2 linked regions of the Homo sapiens genome follow. The protein of the gene in region 1 purifies or fractionates together with the protein of each later gene. This does not show direct contact. Each region holds a gene or a part of one and is shown on either strand. Other genes may lie near its edges. The genes, in order: CT45A5 and SUPT5H.

Region 1 (10,489 bases):
TGAGGCTAGGATTCAGCTTTGCCACTTTCTAGATTGTCAGCCAAGCCCCACAAGGCACTGCCACAAAGCTGCAATGACAACTCAGGCTTTAAAAGGTCCTCCAATGTTCTATTGAGCCAGCCATTTCAGGATGTTGAAGAACATCACAAGACTAGTGAAGTACATTAGCATGAGCCCATTCCCATACTTCATTGCCTGTAAAGTGAGTTTGATGTTTAAAACTGGTGCAGTGTGGAATACCACGACGGTGGATACAGCCTTTCCTCATACCACAGTACCGATTTCCTTGAAGTTCCATGGGTGGGAATGAAAATCCATATGCAGAATAAGTGTCTATTTGAGGAAGATCAAAGTGATACCCCTTCAATCGTGGAAGCAGACCCAAGTAATCACAGTGCTACCTGGAAGCTGACTGACCACTCTGGGACATGGTGCCATATTGGGGACTCAGTGTTGGTCTCTGCTGCTGTCAGATTGAATAGTGAGCAGTGGCTGTAGTGAGATGGACCTGGTAAATGAAAGTTCATGTTGCCAAACCCGTAAATAAGCTTTATCTCAGCCACCATAATCATGATGCACCATTACTGCTTAGAAGATAGAGGGGTGCACCCAAGTAGGTATGGAGGGGTCTCAGGTAGCTTAGAGTGGCCTCAGCCAAGACCGCAAGTATACGGCTACCTCAGTTCCACAACTTTAAGAAGTTAGACCTGCCCGTAACCCAAATGTGCTTGAAAACAGGTTCTCTCTGAGTCCTTAGTTAGTCAGCAGCCTGGTTGATACCCTAACTTTGATTTTGTGAGATCCTAAGCAGAGAAACCAATCCAGGCTGCATGGATTTCTGATCTACAGAACTGCTTATATATTTGTGTTATTTTAAGCTGCTGAATCGGGGACAATTTCTTTTGCATTAGTAACAAACCTAATAGATGTGGTGCCTGCATATTCTGAAGTAACAAATGAAAATCAGGCATGAAGTTTTTTATTTTCTAGTCAACTGGTCTCAGGGAACTCCACATGAGATCACAGGTGCAGGATTAGGGAAGCTTCTCTTTTTCTGGGCCCCGGTCCATGCTAGCGGGGTTTCAGTCACTTGTCAATGGGTCCACGGTACTGCACAACATTTAGGTATATGCTAAAACAAGCATCTATTATGCAACTCGTTTCATGTTCCTTATTTAGTAGTAAGAAAGGCAAGATGTAAGAACTTGCTGTTCACCTTATAACCACCATCTTGACATGCCAGACTACCAGATTGTTAAACGCTTCACTCAGTTAGAAGGCCCCTGATTTTGTGTGAGAATTATTTCTCACATAATGTCTTGCAAGTGTGTTGCTACCATGTCTGGATTAGTTGCTACCTCCTTTTCAGTCAGCATGATGTCATCACTGCAAAGAATGGTGTCACATCTGGTTTAAGAGAAAGGTGGCCATTTTCCCTAAGAACTCGTTTAGGATATAAACCTAGAGAGTTGATATAAGCTTGAAATAGGAAATGATAGTACATTGCTGTCCTTTCTAGCTGAATTGAAATTCTTGTTTACGACAATTACTGAAAGAAAGCCAAACATTCACCTAATCAGTATTGTATATCAGGTTCCGAGGGATGTCACAGTTGCTGACACAACAAAACCACTTGTAGTACAGCAGCTGCAGTTGGAACAACAATTTGATTAAGTTTATGGTGCAATCTCGGCTCACTGCAACCTCCACCTCCCGGGTTCAAGCAGTTCTCTTGCCTCAGCCTCCTTGTGTAGCTGGGACTATAGAAACGCATTATCACACCTGGCTAATTGTTTGTATTTCTTAGTAGAGACAGAGTTTCACCATGTTGGCCAGGCTAGTCTCAAACTCCTGACCTCAAGTGATATGCCCACCTCAGACTCCCAAAGTGCAAGTGCGAGCCACTGCGCAGGGCCCCAGCTATTTTTTGTATTTTTGGTAGAGATGTGGTTTCGCCACTTTGGCCAGCCTCGTCTGGAACTCCTGACCTCAAGTGATCCACCCGCTTCTGCCTCCCAAATCCTGGGATTACAGGCGTGAGCCACTGTGTCCGGTGAAAACTTCACTTTTAAGTGAAACGCAGAAGCAAAATCTGATAATCAGAAAATGAGATACTGCGTGTTCTCATTCATATGTGGGAGCTAAACAATGGGTACACATGAAAATAAAGGTAGAAACCATTGACTCTGGGGACTCCAAAATGGAGGTAGAGGGGAGGGAGGGAGCGGGTCGGAGGGTTGAAAAACTACCTATTGGATACTCTCTTCACTATTTGGGTGATGAGTTCACTAGAAGCCCAAACCCCGGCACTGTGCAATTATATCCAAGCGAGAAATCTGTACATGTACCCTTCTGGCATCTATAATTTTAAAAAAGCTAACAAAGAAAGCTTCAGTTTTAAATCTTAACCAAATACACAGGAAAAGGATTACTATACTTGGACACCTTTACAGGTTTCTATGTTAGTTTTTGGTATTAAAGCAGAAACCTGTTCCTCGACCACTTTATTAATTGTATGTCCTCTTTGTACAAACATCGGAAATAGAAGACTGTCACTTTTGGTTCTGTAACTGTCTTGACTGCAGTCTTCTACAGCTTTCACAGAGTTAATGGTCCCTAGTATCTGCCATTCTCCAATTGCCCTGGGTGGCGAAATCGCTGCCATAGTAAACTTTTCACTGATAATTAGAGTTTCTGGAAACATGCAGGGCTCGTTATTTAAGAGTGACTCCATTTGGGCATTTTGGTGGATGGCCTACAGGTTTTCTTGCAGAGTATACTAGAGTCTCCAGAATGAATAACCCTAGGAACTTGAGGAACTAGCGCTTTCCAGAATTTTGGAAGCTGAGATACAAACATTGGTTTTCTCAAAAGCACTGCAAGTGGGAAGGAAAATCCATATCTAGACTAAATGTCTGTTCAGGTAAGAAGAAAGCACTTCTCTTTTTATAATAGAAGTGATCTATTGTAATCCACATACCAACTAGTGGCTGGCAGATCATTCTGGAGTCTGGTGCCAAATTGGGGGCTTAGTGTTGGTCTCCATTCCTGGAAGATTTTTCACTCAGCAATGACCGTAGCCAGGTTTGCCATGGTGAGTGGAGGTCCATGCTACTGCGCATAATCTCCAACCCTGCCAGTTTGACCACTTTGTTTGTTGAGCCGGTAAGATTGTGACACACGTGTTAGGGAAAGAGGCTGATTAATACCTAGATAATAAGTACCTTATCCATCTGATTATTAAAATTCTGCTCTGCTGAGGATACCCTTTGCTGAGAACTCTCATGAGACCCCAATATCTTCACATTGTATGTCCGTTTGGACAGGCCTGTCCACATATTTTTTTTTTCTCAGACTTCTTTGTCGCACATTTTTAATCGTGTGTTCTCAAAGTCCCTGACAATTCAGCGAATGAGTGGGACACAGCCTATGCATGATACATACTTACACGTCTGGATATGCCTCCTCCAAGAAGGTGCACTGCTCAAAGTTCTTCCCTCTGGGAGGATTTCCCTTCATCACTGTCCTTCAGGGCTGTCCCAGTCAGGACTGTCGTATGCAGCTGTCCACCTGTGGCTTGTGTGGTAGGCAGGATTCTAATTAAGCCCCAACAAGATTCCAGTCTCATGGTTATTCAATCAAATACTCCTATGAGTACTGCTCTGGTGGGATTTTTTTAATGCAAAAAATGAGTATTTTATTTTGATAGCACTAGAGGAAACAAACAAAACAACTGTTCCTACATCAAAGTGAAAACAATGTTTAAGCTTTCCTATCAATCAAATATATTCCAAAAGAAAATGTGTTCTATGAAGGTTCTGAAGCACAGGCAAATATTAACACAATAGGCTAAGAAGCTGTAATACTGAATATGACTCTCTTCTAACAGGGTACTTAACAAACATAATTTTTAATTTTAATTTTAATTAATTAATTTATTTTGAGACGGACTCTCCCTTTGTCCCCCAGTGACAATGGATCTCTGCCCCTTTGGAGTGCAGTGACGCGATCTCTGCTCACTGAAGCTTGCACCTCTCAGGTTCAAGTGATTCTCCTGCCTCTGCTGCCCTAGTAGCAGGGAGTACAGGTGCCCACCACCATGCCTGGCTATATTTTTTAATTTTAATTTTAAGTTTTTTACAAACATAACTTTTGAATTACAAAACCAGTGAAGTAATCCCTTCCAAATAATTGTGTCAATAGTGAAACTGCCTGTTCCATTAAAACTCGAAAAATTTCGCTGTAATATTTTTTACCACTATGGACAATTCAAGTAAATTTTGCTGCACTTAAAATAAGTTGTGAAAGTAGAAAAATGGGCCGGGCATGGTGGCTCTCCCCTGTAATCCCAGGACTTTGGGAGGCCAAGGCAGATGAATCACTTAAAGTCAGGAGTTTGAGACCAGCCTGGAGAACATTGTGAAACACCGTCTCTGCTAAAAATACAAATACCAGCCGGGCATGGTGGTACATGCCTGTAATCCCAGCTTCTCGGGAGGCTGAGGAAGGAGAACTGCTTGAACCTGGGAGGCGGAGGTTGCAGTGAGCCAAGATCATGCCACTGCACTCCAGCCTGGGTGACAGAGCCAGACTGTCTCAAAAAAAATAAAAAAGGTGGAAAAATATACAAAGTTCCAGATTAAAATGATTAATAGATGCAATATAATAAGGTTTCCCCTCCTTCCATCCTTTCTTTCTTTCTCTCTTTCTTTCTTCCTTTCTTCCCTTCTTTCTTCCATCCTTCCTTTCTTCCTTTCTTCCCTTCTTTCTTCCATCCTTCCTTTCTTCCTTCCTTTCTTTCTTTCGTTCTTTCTTTCCTTCCTTCCTTCTTTTTTCTTTCTCTTTCTTTCTTTCTTTCTCTCTTTCTTTCTCTCTTTCTTTTTTTTTGTAGACAGTCTTACTCTGTCACCCAGGCTATAGTGCAATGGTGCGAACAAAGGTCAATGCAGCCTCAACCTCCTGGTGTCAAGCCTCCCGAGCAGCTGGGACCACAGTTACACGCTCAGCTAATTTTTGTATTTTGTGTTAAGATGGGGTTTCACCATGCTGCCCAGGCTGCTCTTGAACTCCTGGGCTCAAGGAATCCACCCCTCTTGGTCTCCCAAATTGCTGGGATTACAGACGTGAGCGACCGCACTGGGGCCCTCATTTTTCTTATCAATTAACAATAATGGTTACCTTTAACAGATAGAGGTTGACTTTATTTATTGATTGATTGATTTTTATTTTTAGACAGAGTCTCACTCTGTTACCCAGGCTGGAGTGCAGTGGCATGATCTCAGCTCACTGCAAATTCTGCCTGCCCGGTTCAAGCGATTCTCCAGCCTCAGCCTCCCAAGTAGCTGGTGGGATTATAGGTGCATGCCACCACGCCCGGTAATTTTCTGTATTTTTAGCAGAGACGGGATTCACCATGTTGGTCAGACAGACTGGTCTCGAACTCCTGACCTCAGGTGGTCCAGCCCCTTCGGCCTCCCAAAGTGTTGAGATTACAGGCGTGAGCCACTGTGGCGGGTCGGGGTTGACTTTAAAACACAACCCCCTCAAATGAAAATTGCAGTTTGTTGTTGTTCTTTTTCTTTTTCTTTTCTTTTCCTTCTTTCTTTCTTTTTTTTTTTTTTTCTGAGATGGGGTCTCCTCTACCGCCTGGGCTGGAGTGCAGTGGCTCACTGCTACCTCCACCTCCCGGGTTCAAGCCATCCTCCCACCTCAACTTCCCGAGTAGTTGGGACCACAGGTGCGAGGCCACTAGGCCCAGCTAATTTGTGTGTTTCTTTCTTTCTTTCTTTCTTTTTTGATTAGTTGGTTGCTTTGTAGAGCCGGGGTCTCACTATGTTACCCAGGCGATTTCATCCCGCTGGGTGAGAAGGTTCTGCATTCCTCCGCATACGTTGCTGTGCAGTTGTTACTGAAGGTCGCCTGTAGAGGGCGCCAGAGTCAGCGAAGGGGAGGGCTGCGCTTCCTGGTTCTCTGGGGCACGAGGCTTCTCCTCAGCACTCTGGCGCCCCCAACAGGTTCCCAGTGTTCGGCTGGGGCAGGCACGCTGTGGCTGGCTACTTCCCTTCCTCCCATCCCCCTTGGGCCAAACGGGATCGGTGCTTCTGGTGAGACGCCTCCCCATGCACATCACTCCCAGGTGCCCTAGGGGGCACATTTCCCACAACTCCCAGAGGGCAGGTTTCTAGAAAGTGCCACCAGTGGGGAGGCGCCACAACTTCACTGCCATTTTGTGAGGTGCCGCCGTCTCTCCTCCAGCAAGGTCAGGACTTCAGGACTGTGAGTGGGCAGTTTTTCCCTGGATGCTTTAATTTCGCCCTGGAAAGTGTCCTTTTTCCTCAGAAAGAGTCTTTTCTGTGGTGTTCTCTGTCCGGTGTGTGGGAGGGCTCCCTTGGGGAAGTGGCTTAGCTCTGGGGACACCGCCATGGGCGCCTGTGTCAGCCGCGGGGGAGCGTTTTCCTTGGGCACCCCGTCTCGGCTATGTTGTGGGGCCAGGGGGCTTTTCTTGGGGGCTCTTGTTGGGGGCTCCCTGTCGGTGATGGAAAAGGCGACTTTTCCTGCTGAAATGACCTGAGCCCGGGGGGTGGGGGCCATGCCTTGGTTGCCTGTGTCGGCCTCGGGTGCGGCGGTGTTTCTTTCCCGCTCAGTCGCTGTCCTGAGGGGGGACTCTGCCCTGGGGTCACTATCTGTGCTCATGGAACGTGGTGGGGGTGGCTGTGCCCCGGACACATGATCGTAGCCCTGTGGGGTCACTGTCGGGGGCTTTATCTCAACCTCTGGTGGACTCTTCCTTGGGTACTGATGTCGGCCGTGAGGCGCATTTGTCCTCGGATGTTGCTCGCTCTCAGTTACAATGTGTTGGCTTTTCTTTGGTTCTGCTTATCCCCGTTGTGGACGCTTACTGGATGCTTTCTCTTGGTGCTGGGTTTTTAAAATTATTATCTGTAGGTGCTCTCTCCCGGTGCCGCCGGGGAGTGGGGTAATGTTCCTTGGATTCTCTAAGCCTATGGTGGGACTCAGGGAGCTCTGTGTCAGCCATGAAGGAGGCCACGTGACCTTGGGAACTCTGTCTCGACCCAGGTTGGGGTGCTTTTCCTCGGTTGGTTGATCGCAATTCTGAAGGAGCTCTTTCCTGGGATTCTATCTGACCTTTCAGCCACAGCCTCAGGTGTCTGTGTGGGAATGGGAGTCCAGAAATATTCGAAGGTTCCAGCTGTGCCACATTCGAACACTCGCAGTACAGTTAGTCTTTCATTCCAGCCACTCTGATGGGTGTGCAGTGATCTCTCCTTGTGTCTACACTCGCATTTCTCTGCTGATTAATGAGATCGAGCACCTTTTTAAGAAATTGTTTTTATTTATTGATTTTTGTTTGTCTTTTGAGATGAGGTCTCCCTCTGTCACCCAGACTGGATTGCAGTGCCACCACACCCAGCTATTTATTGTTTTCTTTTTTTTTTTTTTTTAGCACCATTTTATGTGTTTATTGGTCATTTAACTATGCCTTTTATGAAGTTCCTTTTCAGGTATTTTCCCCCAGCTTTTACTGAGATGTTTGTATTTTAAAAATGGATTTGTAGTTTCCATATATTCTGTATTTGAGTTATACGCACAGGCACACAGGCGTATATGTACATATACAAAAATACATATACAATTTTAGTATCTTCTATAAATCTTTTTTGCTTTTACACGATCTCAATAATGTGTTGTAGATGAACAGATTCTCTTAATTTTATTAATTAGTGTATTATTTATGGATAGTGCTTTTTATTATTTTAAGAAACATCTTTGACTCACCCAATGCCATTACGATAATATTCCTTTTCTTAAAATTATACTTTAAGTTCCGGGATACATGGGCAGAACGTGCAGGTTTGTTACATAGGAAGACACATGCCATGGTTGTTTGCTGCACCCATTGACCCGTCATCTACCTTAGGTATTTCTCTAATGCTATCCCTCCCCTAGCCCCCCAACCCCTGACAGGCCCCACTGTGTGATGTTCTTCTCCCCGCGTCCATGTGTTCTCATTGTTCAACTCCCACTTATGAGTGAGGACACGTGGTGTTTGGTTTTCTGTTCCTGTGTTAGCTTGCTGACACATGTCCCTTCAAAGGACATGAACTCATTCTTTTTTATGGCTGCATAGTATTCCGTGGTGTATATGTACCACATTTTCTTTATCCAGCGTCGTGGCAGGCGCCCGTAATCGCAGCTACTCAGGAGGCTGAGGCAGGAGAATTGCTTGAACCTGGGAAGTGGAGGTTGCAGTGAGCAGAGACTGTGCCACTCCACTGCAGCCTGGGTGACAGAGCGAGGCTCCGACTCAAAAAAAAAAAAAAATGTCTTCCAATGCATGGAAAGAAAATTTTTCTCCATTTACTGCAGTCTTGAATTTCTCTGAGTGATGTTTTATAATTTTTGTGAAGTACTCTAGCACATCTTGATTAGATTTATTCCTAAATATTTGATGTTTTTGGAACTGTTTTTAATGACATTTGAAATCTCATATTCTAATTATTCGTTATACAGAATTGCCATTCTGTATAATGCCATTCATTATACAGAATTGCTATTCATTATACAGAAATGCCATTGGTTTTCATTGTATCTAGTAAGTTGACTAAATTTGCTTATTAACTGTAATGATTTTATTCTTCTGCATTTTTCTATGTACAGAACAATGTCATCTGTGAATAATGACAGTTTTATTTCTTTCCAAATTTTAAACCTATTGTATTTTCCTGATGATATGGCACTTTTTGGAACCTCCAGTAAATTGTTGAATGGATAGTGGACATCTTTGTCTTGTTTTCAAACTCAGGGAGAAAATACTGATACGTCACTATGAAGTATGGCATTTAAAAATTTTTTGTACATATGCTAACCAGAATAGGAAAGTTGCCCTTTTTCCTAAGTTGGTGATAGTTTTTATCACGAATGGACTTTAAACATTGATCCATGTATGAAAATGATCATGCGGTGTTTCCCTGTTTTTGTTGTTGTTGTTGTTGTTGTTGTTAATGTGGTGCACTACATTTGTCGATTTTCAAATGTTAAATCAGTGTTGCCTTTCTGCAATATACTCCACCATGGCTGATGTATGTCCTTTTTAAGTACTAGTACATTTTATTTGCTCACCCTTAGTTTGGAATTTTTGTGTCTAAGTTCGGGGTGATCTTGGCTTGTATTTTTGGCTTGATCTTGTAGTTTTTCATTCTTCTAAATTCCTTGTCAGATGTTGTTATCAGTTTTGTATCAATCTTCTAATAAGGGTTCCTAATAAGGGTTAATACACGTTGGTTTATGCATCTATTTGAATATATAAGCATAAATACTTATATATTAAATATATATGATATATAATATATAATTTAAAATATAATGTATAATAAGGGTTAATACAGATTGGTTTATACATCCATTTTTTCTAATAAGGGTTAATACAGATTGGCTTATACATCTTCAAATAGGTAATAATATTTTTATCTATTTTTGGTTGATGACAGCTGCTTATTCCACAAGCATTCTGATTGATTTGGTTATACCATCTTTCTTCTGTTTTACTTTGTGTACATTAAAATTAGGTTTCTTTTCCTGAGAACAGAGTGTTTGTTGAGACTTGGTAAATCTTGGCTCATGATTAAAAGTGAAATTAATGATTCAAAGTCTTGGTTGTATACACATATGCAGATTGCTTGCCATTTTGTGATTGTTAGATTTTTGTCATGAATAGAATATATTCATTGATGTTTTTCAGGAAACAATGACCGATAAAACAGAGAAGGTGGCTGTAGATCCTGAAACTGTGTTTAAACGTCCCAGGGAATGTGACAGTCCTTCGTATCAGAAAAGGCAGAGGATGGCCCTGTTGGCAAGGAAACAAGGAGCAGGAGACAGCCTTATTGCAGGCTCTGCCATGTCCAAAGAAAAGAGTAAGTAAGCCTGTCCTCACGTCCTCCTCATGCTCCTGCCTCATCCCCTCCAGAGAAACTGTCCTTGTCAAGGTTAACAGTTTCGGCTGACATTGCCATTAACTTCTCAGCAGCATTTGACAGTTGTTCACTCGCTTCTTCATGAAAACCTTCTAGGATTTCCATTTCCGACAATCTTTTTTTTTTTTTTAATTTCTTGTCCGTATTGGTGAATCCCTATCATTTTTTTCTTGAGATGGAGTTTCGCTCTTCTCAGCCAGGCTGGAGTGCAGTGGCGCGATCTCGGCTCACTGAAATCTCCGTCTCCTGGGTTCAAGTGATTCTTCTGCCGCAGCCTCCCGAGTAGCGGGATTACAAGCACCAGCCACCACACCCAGCTAATTTTTGTAAGTTTAGTAGAGATGGGGTTTCGCCATGTCGGCCAGGCTGGTCTGGAACTCCCCCCCTCAGGTGATCCACCCACCTCAGCCTCCCAAAGTGCTGGGATTACACGCACGAGCCACCGCCCCCGACCCCATCATTGTTTTTTTCTACATTTCTTTTTCTTCTCTTCT
Region 2 (10,427 bases), on another chromosome or scaffold:
TGCGCTATTGCACTCCAGCCTGGGCGACAGAGTGAGACTCCGTCTCGGGGTGGGTAGGGGGTGGAATGTCTTCCTCATTATTATAGTAATAAGTGTCCCTGCCTGTCATGGGTGAGATTGGGATTTGTGGGGTATGATTCCCCAACAGGGAGGTTGAAAAGGTACCTTTTGGCTAGGTGTGGTGGCTAATGTCTGTAATACCAGTATTTTGGGAGGCTGAGGCAAAAGGAGTTCGAGGCCAGCCTGGACATCATAGTGACATAGTGACAACTGATTTCTACAAAGAAAATAATAATAGGCCGGGCGCGGTGGCTCACGCCTGTAATCCCAGCACTTTGGGAGACTGAGGCGTGTGGATCACCTGAGGTTAAGAGTTCGAGACCAGCTTCACCAGCATGGTGAAACTCCGTCTCTACCAAAAATACAAAAGATTAGCCAGGGGTGGTGGTGCATGTCTATAATCCCAGCTACTTGGGAGGCTGAGACAGGAGAATTGCTTGAACCCAGGAGTTGGAGGTTGTAGTGAGCCAAGCTCGTGCCACTGCACTCCAGCCTGGGCAACAGAGCGAGACTGTCTCAAAAAAAAAAAAAAAAAAATAATAATAATAATAATTAAAAGAAGTGTGCTCAAATCCTCCTACATGGTACCCTGGGGTAAAATTCTAGTTACTTCATTTGAGTTATGTCTCTGATTATTATTTTTTTTTGAGACGGAGTTTCACTCTTGTTGCCCAGGCTGGAGTGCAATGGTGTGGTCTCGGCTCACTGCAACCTCTGCCTCAGCCTCCCGAGTAGCTGGGATTATAGGCATCCGCCACCATGCCCGGCTGATTTTTTTGTATTTTTAATAGAGACGGGGTTTCACCATGTTGGCCAGCCTGGTCTTGAACTCCTGGCTCAAGTGATCCACCCGCCTTGGCCTCCCAAAGTGCTGGGATGGCAGTTCTGAGCCACTGTGCCCAGCCTAAAATTTAATTTTTTTAAAGTGTAAACTGTGGTGGATTTTATATATTGTAGTGTATTCATAACCATCATCACCATCTAATTCCAGGACATTTTCATTATCCCAAAAATAAACCGATACCCATTAGTCATCACTCCCCATTCCTCCCTCCTCACAGCTCCTGGTAACTATGAATCTACCTTCTTTCTCTGTGGATTTGACTATTGGAACTCTGAATGGTTCATACAAAGGGAATCATACAATATGTCGCCTTTCGTGACTGACTTGCTTCACTTAATGTTTTCAAGACTCATCCATATTGTAGCATATATCAAGACTTCATTTTTTTGTTTGTTTTTTTGAGATGGAGTTTTACTCTTCTTGCCCAGGCTAGAATGTAATGGTGCAGTCTTGGCCCACTGCAACCACTGCCTCCCAGGCTCAACTGATTCTCCTGTCTCAATCTCCCAAGTAGCTGGGATTACAGGCACCCGACACCACGCCTGGCTAATTTTTGTGTTTTTAGTAGAGATAGGGTTTCAGCATGTTGGCCAGGCTGGTCTCGAACTCCTGACCTCAGGTGATCGGCCCACCTCGGCCTCCCAAAGTGTTGGGATTACAGGCGTGAGCCACTGTGCCCAGCCTTAATTTTCTTTTTTTTTTTTTTTTTTGAGACAGAGTCTCGCACCGTTGCCCAGGCTGGAGTGCAATGATGCGATCTCGGCTCACCGCAACCTGCACCTCCCGGGTTCAAGCGATTCTCCTGCCTCAGCCTCCCAAGTAGCTGGGATTACAGGCACCCACCACCATGCCCAGCTAATTTTTTTTTTTTTTTTTTTTTTGGTATTTTTAGTAGAGATGGGGTTTCACCATGTTGGCCAGGCTGACCTTGAACTCCTGACCTCAGATGATCCACCCCTCAGCCTCCCAAAGTGCTGGGATTACAGGCATGAACCCACTGCGCCTGGCCAACCGGCCTTAATTTTTGTATTTTTAGTAGAGGCAAGGTTTCACCATGTTGGCCAGGCTGGTATTGAACTCCCGACCTCAAGTGATCCTCCTGCCTCGGCCTCCCAAAGTGCTGGGATTACAGGCATGAGCCACCGCTCCTGGCCTTTTTTTTCTTTTAGTTGGTATTTACAGCTATACATTTACTTCTAAGCATGGCTTTTTTCAAATCTCATAAGTTTTGGTATCTAGGAGTGTGTTGCCATGTATTTGTGAATTTCCTAAGTATCTTTCTGTTGGTTTTTAACTTCATTACATATGGATGGAGAATATACTTTATATGATTTTAGTTCTTTTATGTTTACTGAGACGTGTTTTATGGCCTAACCTGTGGTTTATTCTGGAAAGTTTAATATGCCCTTGAGAAGAAAGTGCATTCTGCTGTTGTTAGATGGAGTGTTCTTTTTTCCCATTTCCGCTTAATAAGTGGAAAGTGAAGACGAAATGTTCTGTCTATAGCTGGCTATTAGGTTTAGGTGGCTTACAGTGTTGCTCAAGTGTTCTCTTTCCTTGTTGATCTTGGGTCTAGCTCTATCCATGATTGAAAGCAGGGTATTGCAGTCAGTGATTGTTACTGTTGAGTTGTCAGTTTCTTCCTTCATTTTCATTAGTTTCTGCTTCATGTATTTTGAGGCTCTGTTAGTTTCATATACATTTGTAATTCTATCTTCCTGATGGATTGACCTTTTTATTGTTACAAAATGTTTTTTGTTGTCTCTGGTAGCAATTTTTGTCTTAAAGTATATTTTGTCTGATGTAAGCACTCCTTTCTTGGTTCTTCTTCTAGTTGCTTTTTTTTTTTTTTTGAGACGGAGTTTTGCTCTTATTGCCCAGACTGGAGTGCAATGGTGCGATCTCAGCTTACCGCAACCTCCACCTCCCGGGTTCAAGCGACTCTTCTGCCTCAGCCTCCCGTGTAGCTGGGATGACAGGCATGTGCCACCACACCCGGCTAATCTTGGATATTTTTAGTAGAGACAGGGTTTCTCCGTGTTGGTCAGGCTGGTCTTGAACTCTTGACCCCAAGTGATCCACCCGCCTCGGCCTCCCAAAGTGCTGGGATTACAAGCATGAGCCACCGTGCCCGGCTCTAGTTGCTTTTTTACACAGAACATATGTTGGATAGCTTTCTATATTAGTACATACAGGTTAATCTAATTTTTATTTTATTTTTTATTTTTAAGAGACAGGGTTTCACTCTGTTGCCCAGGCTGGAGTGCAGTGGTGCGATCTCAGCTCACTGCAGCCTCAACCTCCCGGGCTCAAGCAGTCCTCCCTGCTCAGCCTCCTGAGTAGCTGGGACTACAGGCATGTGCCATCACACCCAGCTAGTTTTTGTATTCTTTAACTGCAACATTGTATTTCATGGTACATTAAGCCATAAGTTAACTAGTTACTGTTTCTGGATATTTTTAAAATTTTTAGTCTGGTTTGTTTGCTGTGATAAATAATTCTGCAGGGAACACCTTTGTGTCCATGTCATTGTGCCAGTGTGTTTCTGTGGAATAAATTCCTAGAAGAGGGACTGCTGATGAGTGGCAGTCATTTCTGTTATTAGCCGTTGTGTCTCACTGTTTCCTCCTTCCACCGGCTCACCCTGCAGCCCCTGCAGATCAAGTCAGTAGTGGCACCAGAGCATGTGAAGGGCTACATCTACGTGGAGGCCTACAAGCAGACCCACGTGAAGCAGGCCATTGAGGGGGTGGGCAACCTGCGGCTTGGCTACTGGAACCAGCAGATGGTGCCCATCAAGGAGATGACAGACGTGCTCAAAGTGGTGAAGGAGGTGGCCAACCTGAAACCAAAGTCCTGGGTCCGCCTCAAGCGGGGCATCTACAAGGATGACATTGCTCAGGTGCCCGGGGCGGGGTGGCATGGGGGTCAGGGTCCCTCCATTCTGTTCTCCCTTCCTTTCCTTTTGTCCTTCCCACCCTCTTTGTGCTGCAGAGAATAGAATCCCACTCAGATGAGTTGAAGCAGAGCCTGGGTTTTGTGAGCACACAGGAAACGGTTGGCTGTCTTCTGTGCACATTCCCAGGCGTGTTGAGTAAAGGTCTGAAGGATCGGAGGGCGTGAGGCATGTGGAGCTCTTGGGGAGGAGTGTTGTAGGCAGCAGGAGTGGCCTGTGAGATAGGATGGCACAGTCACTGGCTACAGCAGGGATGGCGTGAGATGAGTTAGGGAGCTCACGAGGGCCTGCGGCCCATTGGAGAGCTTTGGTGTTTACTGGCGTAGGATGGGAGGGCTGTAAGGGACACAGGCAGACTTCAATGTTAATAAGATTTCTCTGGTGACTGTGTTGAGACTAGACCACTGGTTCTCAAGCCAGGGTGATGTTTCCCCAGGGGACATTTGGTAACGTCTGGAGACATTTTTGGTTATGTCAGCTGGGGAGGGGGTTGACGATTATGGCATCTAGCAGGTTAAAGCCAGAAATGCTAGACACACACATCCTCCAATGCACAGGATGGCTGCCCACAACAAAAAATTACCTGGCCCAAAAAGTCAATAGTGCCAAGGCTGAGAAACCCGGGAATAGCCTGGAGGGGGCCATGGGCAAGAGCGTGGAGACCAGGGAGGAGGCTGCTGCTGTAGCACATCCCACCCAGATGGCAGTGCTGGTGGGATAGGACCAAGACCCTAATACACGTTGAGTGTCTCTAACCTGAATTCTTGAGACCACAGGTGTTTTTCAGATTTCAGATTTTTTCAGCTTTTGGAATATTTGCATTATACTTACCGGTTGAGCATCCCAAATCTGAAAATCCAAGAGTGAGCATTTCCTTCGAGCATCATGTTGGTGCTCACAGGGTTTCCTATTTTTGAGCATTTTGGGTTTTTGGATTTGGAATGCTGAGACTGCAGTGGAGGAGGGGAAGAGGTCAGGTATTTTGAAGGCAGAGCTGATGGAATTTGCCAACGGGTCGGGTGTGGGTGTAAGAGAAACAAAGGAGTCAAGAGTGGCTCCCAGGTTGTGTGCCTGAGCAGAGGGAAGAATGGAGTGGGAGGCGGCAGGTTTGGGGGAATCAGCGGTTTGGCTGCGGTCGTCCTGGATTTGAGGGACCTTTAGACATCCAGGTGGAGATACCAAGCAGGCAGTGGCTACTCAGTGCCAGAGTTGAGGGGACAGACAAGCTAGCGTGGGACTTTTGGGAGTGGTCAGCAGCCTGGTTTCTTCCCCACCATCCTGCGTCCCTTCTCCTTCCTAGCATCTCCTGACCCTTCTTGTGTCTGGGGTCAGGGAGGAGAGTGGGGCCCTGCTGACCTTCTGCTCGCCCTGCTCAGGTGGACTACGTGGAGCCCAGCCAGAACACCATCTCCCTGAAGATGATCCCACGCATCGACTACGATCGCATCAAGGCCCGCATGAGCTTGGTACTCAGGGGAATCTGTGGCCTGGGGGGGAGGGAGTGTGCTCGATCCCACTGGTGGCCAAGCCCCCTCCCTCACCCTTCCCACCCATGCCCCTTTCCTCCATAGAAAGACTGGTTTGCCAAAAGGAAGAAGTTTAAGCGGCCTCCACAGAGGCTGTTTGATGCTGAGAAGATCAGGTGCGTGTCCTTGGGGACTGGCTGGGCTGGGTCCCCAGGGCCGGTGTGTAGAATGTGCCTTTTGCAGGTTCCTCCCCAGGGGTGGCCCCGCCACAGGTTTAGCCTGTGAATTGGTTAGCTTGGCAGTATAGCCTCAGGCAAGTCACTTCACATCCCTGTGCCTCAGTTTCTTCTGCTATAAAGATTGATGAGGCTGGGCGCAGCGGGAGGGAGCACTTTGGAAGGCTAAGGCAGGAGGCTTGCTTGAGGCAAGGAGTTCGAGACCAGCCTGGGCAACATAATGAGATCCCATCTTTTAAAATAATAATAATAATAAAAAGAAAAAAGTTAAAAAAATATTTAAAAAGATTGATGAGGCTGGGCGTGATGGCTCACACCTATAATCCCAGCGCTTTGGGAGGCCGAGGCGGGCGGATCACTTGAGGTCAGGAGTTCAAGACCAGCCTGGCCAACATGGTGAAACCTTGTCTCTACTAAAAATACAAAAATTAGCCAAGGGTTGTGGTCAGCTCCTGTAATCCAAGCTACTTGGGAGGCTGAGGCAGGAGAATCGCTTAAACCCACGAGGCAGAAATTGCAGTGAGCCGAGATCGTGCCACTGCACTCCAGCCTGGGTGACAGAGCGAGACTCCGTCTCAAAAAAAAAGAAAACAACCTCTGCTTCCTCAGATTATAGATTATAGTGAGAATTAAATAAATTAGTATGCATATGTACTCAGAATGCCCTTGGCACGTAGTAAGTGTGATCCATGGTGTGATATATTGAAATGGGATTCATGGACTATGTCAGGCTTTAGAAAGTCTCCTTTCCTGATCTGCTTATGCCCACTTGAGATGGGGGGGTATGGAGTGCCTTTCCCTCAGGATGCCCCCCAGACTCCCTAGCTGGGTAGAGAATTGGAGCAGCCCAGGAATTTCAACATCCCAGGGCCAACTGGGGGCTCCGGCAGGGAGGGCAGGAGAGGAGGACATGGAGAAACGAGAGGTGCCAGTGACACTCTTCCCTCTGGTCCTGTTCTAGAACTAATTGTGTGTGATTCAGCCAGTCAGGTTTTCCTTCAGATAAAGGAAGAGCTGTGGAATGCACCTTTGAGTCTGCACCCAAGGGCCTTGCTAATACTTCACCTGCCTGAGTTCGGACCCATTTATACCACTGGTTTCGACTCACCTGAACCTCTCTTTGCAAAGAACAAACCCTAGTGCTCCCTTACCCCCCAGCAAGCCAGCTGACCAAGTACCCCAGCATGCCCAGCAGAGCATGCTGGCCCCTCTCCCAGATTCACCATGGGAGAAGGCGATTGCATGAGCGCAGGAGGAACTTGACCTGCTCCTCCATGAAGGAGGCTCCTTCCCCACCCCGGAGACTCGGAACAGGCACTAAGCGGCCGCCACTCCACATTTGGGGCCGGGAGCTGCAGGCTTGGGAGTCCCACCTGCCTGCTTTTGAATCCTGTCAAGACTGTGGCTTGGCACCCTTGGGCATGTGATGTGACCTTCCTGAGCCTGCATTCCCTCACCTGGAAATGATGAGCAGTTACTGATGCCACAGATTTGGGGAAGAGCCTGTGAGGTCATGAGTGTGCAGGCCAGGCTGAGCGCTCTGCGAATATTCACTGGTATCATTGTCTGAAACTGTTATTTTGTTCAGCTAATGTTTACTGCATACTTTCTGTGTACTGGGCACTATTCTTGGTGAAATTTAGTGAATGTTACATCCCTGACCTTCTGGAGCTGACATGCTAGTTAGGGGGACAGGTCAAACACTAGATTGTCAGATGGTGATCGGTGCTCAAAGATAAATCAGGGAATGGGTGGAGGAGTGCAGGGAGGTGGGAGGCGGGCCTTTGGGGTTTGTGAGAAGTCACTGCTGCCAAGAGGGTGTGTGCTGGGATGGGATGGGTCAGTCTGCCTGTGGTCCTCTCCTTCTGTTGCCAGCTGAGAAGACTGAGGTACAGCAAGATTTTCTTCTTGACTCTCCCTTCTAATCTTCTCTCCCCCATCAAATTCCAGGTCCCTGGGGGGTGATGTTGCCTCTGATGGTGACTTCCTCATCTTTGAGGGGAACCGTTACAGCCGGAAGGGCTTTCTGTTCAAGAGCTTCGCCATGTCTGCTGTGGTGAGGGTCCCAGAGGGGTGTTGGTAATGGGGGTGGTGTGAGTGTTCTCCTGCAGGTGATGCCCTGGGCTGTGGGTTATCTGGTTCTGTCCCACTCCTCAAGTTAGGAGTGTTCCCTAGGAGAATTATTCCCCTAGGACCCACTCAGCCCACTCAGCTGGGCTGTTGCACTGACCTCGGTCCATTTCCTTCTCTTCCCCTCACCGCTGGGGGCTTAGATCACGGAGGGTGTGAAGCCAACACTCTCTGAGCTGGAAAAGTTTGAGGACCAGCCAGAGGGCATTGACCTGGAGGTGGTGACTGAGAGCACAGGTATTTGATCCCCCTCTATAACCTGGGCCAAGGAGCAGGGGCGGCCCATGGTGGCAACCCCCGAGTCAGCCCTACGACTGCCCCTGCAGGGAAGGAGCGGGAGCACAACTTCCAACCTGGGGACAACGTGGAGGTCTGTGAGGGTGAGCTCATCAACCTGCAGGGCAAGATCCTCAGCGTGGATGGCAACAAGATCACCATCATGCCCAAGCATGAGGACCTCAAGGTGGGTGCCCGGTGTTCTCGGGCAGGGGTTGGAGTGTTCAGGCACATCTGACTGTATGTGGCTGTCGAGGCGGTGGTGTGCCTGGTGACACCTGGTTTCCAGGAGGGTAAGTTGAGGCCCTTCTAGCATTCTCAGGTGCCTGAGAGGCTCTGTCTGAGTGCAGCTCAGGGTCGGTGGGCAGCAGGCCTGCCTGGTGGTGTCTGTCTCTGGAGAGTGACTTGGTCTATCTTTTGTTTCTGAAAAGCAAGATATCTGGGTAGTACTGGGTTGAGAGTGTGATTAACCAAGGAGTAATCTGAGGCTTGACTTTGTTTGCTTAGAGCGGGGTGTGTGTTTGTCTGTGTCTGGTGTATGTCTGAGGGGTTGTGCAGGCCCAGTGTGATGTGTGGGGTGAGGCTGTCTCCGGGTGGGGCTGAGGAGCTGTCCAGTCGGGGGTCCTGTGTCTGAGGGGCAGGCTCTCTGTGTGGGTATAGGTAGGCATCGTGTGTCTTGAGGGCGGGCTGGGGTAAAGGTTGTCCAGGTTGGTGTCCTGTGTCTGGGGTCAGCTGTTTCTGGGGCAGTCTGAGGGGTCGTCCAGGTGGACTAAGGTAGTCTGGGGTGGGTGGTAAGAGCCTGAAGTGGGGTTTTTGAGAACATGCGTAGATTCTGAAGACAGGAGGGGCAGGCAGGTTGTGGTGGTCTCCCTTCACCTGTTTGTTGTCCCCACACCCAATCCCCCAGGACATGTTGGAGTTCCCAGCCCAGGAACTTAGAAAATACTTCAAGATGGGGGACCACGTGAAGGTGATTGCTGGCCGATTCGAGGGCGACACAGGCCTCATTGTGCGGGTGGAGGAGAATTTCGTTATCCTGTTCTCTGACCTCACCATGCATGAGGTAGGTGGATAGAAGGGTCGGGGAAGGGTGCACGTGCCAAGAGGAGACCCAGGTAGGCGAGCCACCTGGACTGGGCCTCACCCCTTTCACCATCCCTGGCAGCTGAAGGTGCTCCCCCGGGACCTGCAGCTCTGCTCAGAGACAGCATCAGGTGTGGATGTTGGGGGCCAGCATGAATGGGGCGAGCTGGTGCAGCTGGATCCCCAGACTGTGGGTGTCATCGTGCGACTAGAACGGGAGACCTTCCAGGTGTGTGTGTTGTGCTCTGTGGCGGGGACTTGCTTTTAGGAGGCTTCCTGTCCCTCAACCCCTCATCCTGGGAGGTGGCAGAGCCCCCAGACTGCTCTGGGTTGCAGATCTGGCTCTGTCACTTACATCTGAATGGCTGATAGTGGGCACATGGCAAGTCATTGATCCCTCCCCTTGCCTGTTTTCACACCCTATAAAATGGAAACGAGAGCAGCGTCTACTTTGTTCATAGTGAATGATTCCCTGAGGTTAGATCTGTACCCTGGTGGCTGTTGCTCGCTCAAGGATGGAGTGCCACATGTGCCCTCCTGCCTTTGCTCCTTCCTCATGGATGTGGGAGTCATGGAGCACAGTACTTAGGATCCTGGACTCCACATCCACATCTTGGCTTTGTTGCTCCTGTGCTGTCTGACCCTGGGCTAGTGACTCACCCTCTCTGAGCCTGAGTTTCCCTCTGTAAGATGGAAATCATGACAGAATCCACCTCAGAGGAAGTTTTGAGGCTTCAGTGAAATCTTACGGGGCCTGACACAGAATGATGGATGAACAATGTTGCTATCAGCCCCTTCTTCCATCTCTCAGGTCCCTGTTGCCCAATCGGGGGTGGAGTCTCCTTCCAAAGGGTGTTTTAGAATGACTGGGAACATTTTTGGTTGACCCAGTACCTAAAGGGTGGCACTCTGCCTGCCTGCCCCGCAGCCAGGGAATTGAGATGCCTTGTGGAGCTTGGGACTGTCTCCCACAAGGAAGGATTATCCCACTTTAGGGAACCCCTGCCCCGTGTCTCCCCTTCCCATTCTCACCCCCACAGCCTCCCTGCTCTCCCTCTGTAGGTGCTGAACATGTACGGGAAGGTGGTGACTGTCAGACATCAGGCTGTGACCCGGAAGAAGGACAACCGCTTTGCTGTGGCCTTGGACTCAGAGCAGAACAACATCCATGTGAAAGACATCGTTAAGGTCATTGATGGCCCCCACTCAGTGAGTACAAGTTCCTGCTTTTGAGCTGCATCTGAAAGAATTTGGTTGGTTGGGGGTGAGGGGGACATGGTCAAGAGAGTGACCCTTCTCTCCCCGGCTAGGGCCGAGAAGGGGAGATTCGCCATCTCTTCCGAAGCTTCGCCTTCCTACATTGCAAGAAACTGGTG

What was found.
Region 2: the proteins of CT45A5 (region 1) and SUPT5H purify together in Homo sapiens (affinity purification with mass spectrometry; 2 studies listed by BioGRID). This does not show direct contact.

What each region holds. Positions count from the first base shown.
Region 1 is NC_000023.11:135,781,007-135,791,495, reverse strand, and holds the start of CT45A5 (cancer/testis antigen family 45 member A5), read left to right. Parts: upstream 1-5,992; 5' UTR 5,993-6,259; exon of another isoform or gene 6,260-6,276; intron 6,277-9,760; 5' UTR 9,761-9,766; coding exon 9,767-9,935; intron 9,936-10,489.
Region 2 is NC_000019.10:39,461,244-39,471,670, forward strand, and holds part of SUPT5H (transcription elongation factor SPT5), read left to right. Parts: intron 1-3,554; coding exon 3,555-3,806; intron 3,807-5,236; coding exon 5,237-5,326; intron 5,327-5,431; coding exon 5,432-5,502; intron 5,503-6,978; exon of another isoform or gene 6,979-7,050; intron 7,051-7,512; coding exon 7,513-7,618; intron 7,619-7,835; coding exon 7,836-7,929; intron 7,930-8,018; coding exon 8,019-8,155; intron 8,156-8,875; coding exon 8,876-9,031; intron 9,032-9,133; coding exon 9,134-9,280; intron 9,281-10,113; coding exon 10,114-10,260; intron 10,261-10,361; coding exon 10,362-10,427. UniProt on the Homo sapiens protein: Component of the DRB sensitivity-inducing factor complex (DSIF complex), which regulates mRNA processing and transcription elongation by RNA polymerase II.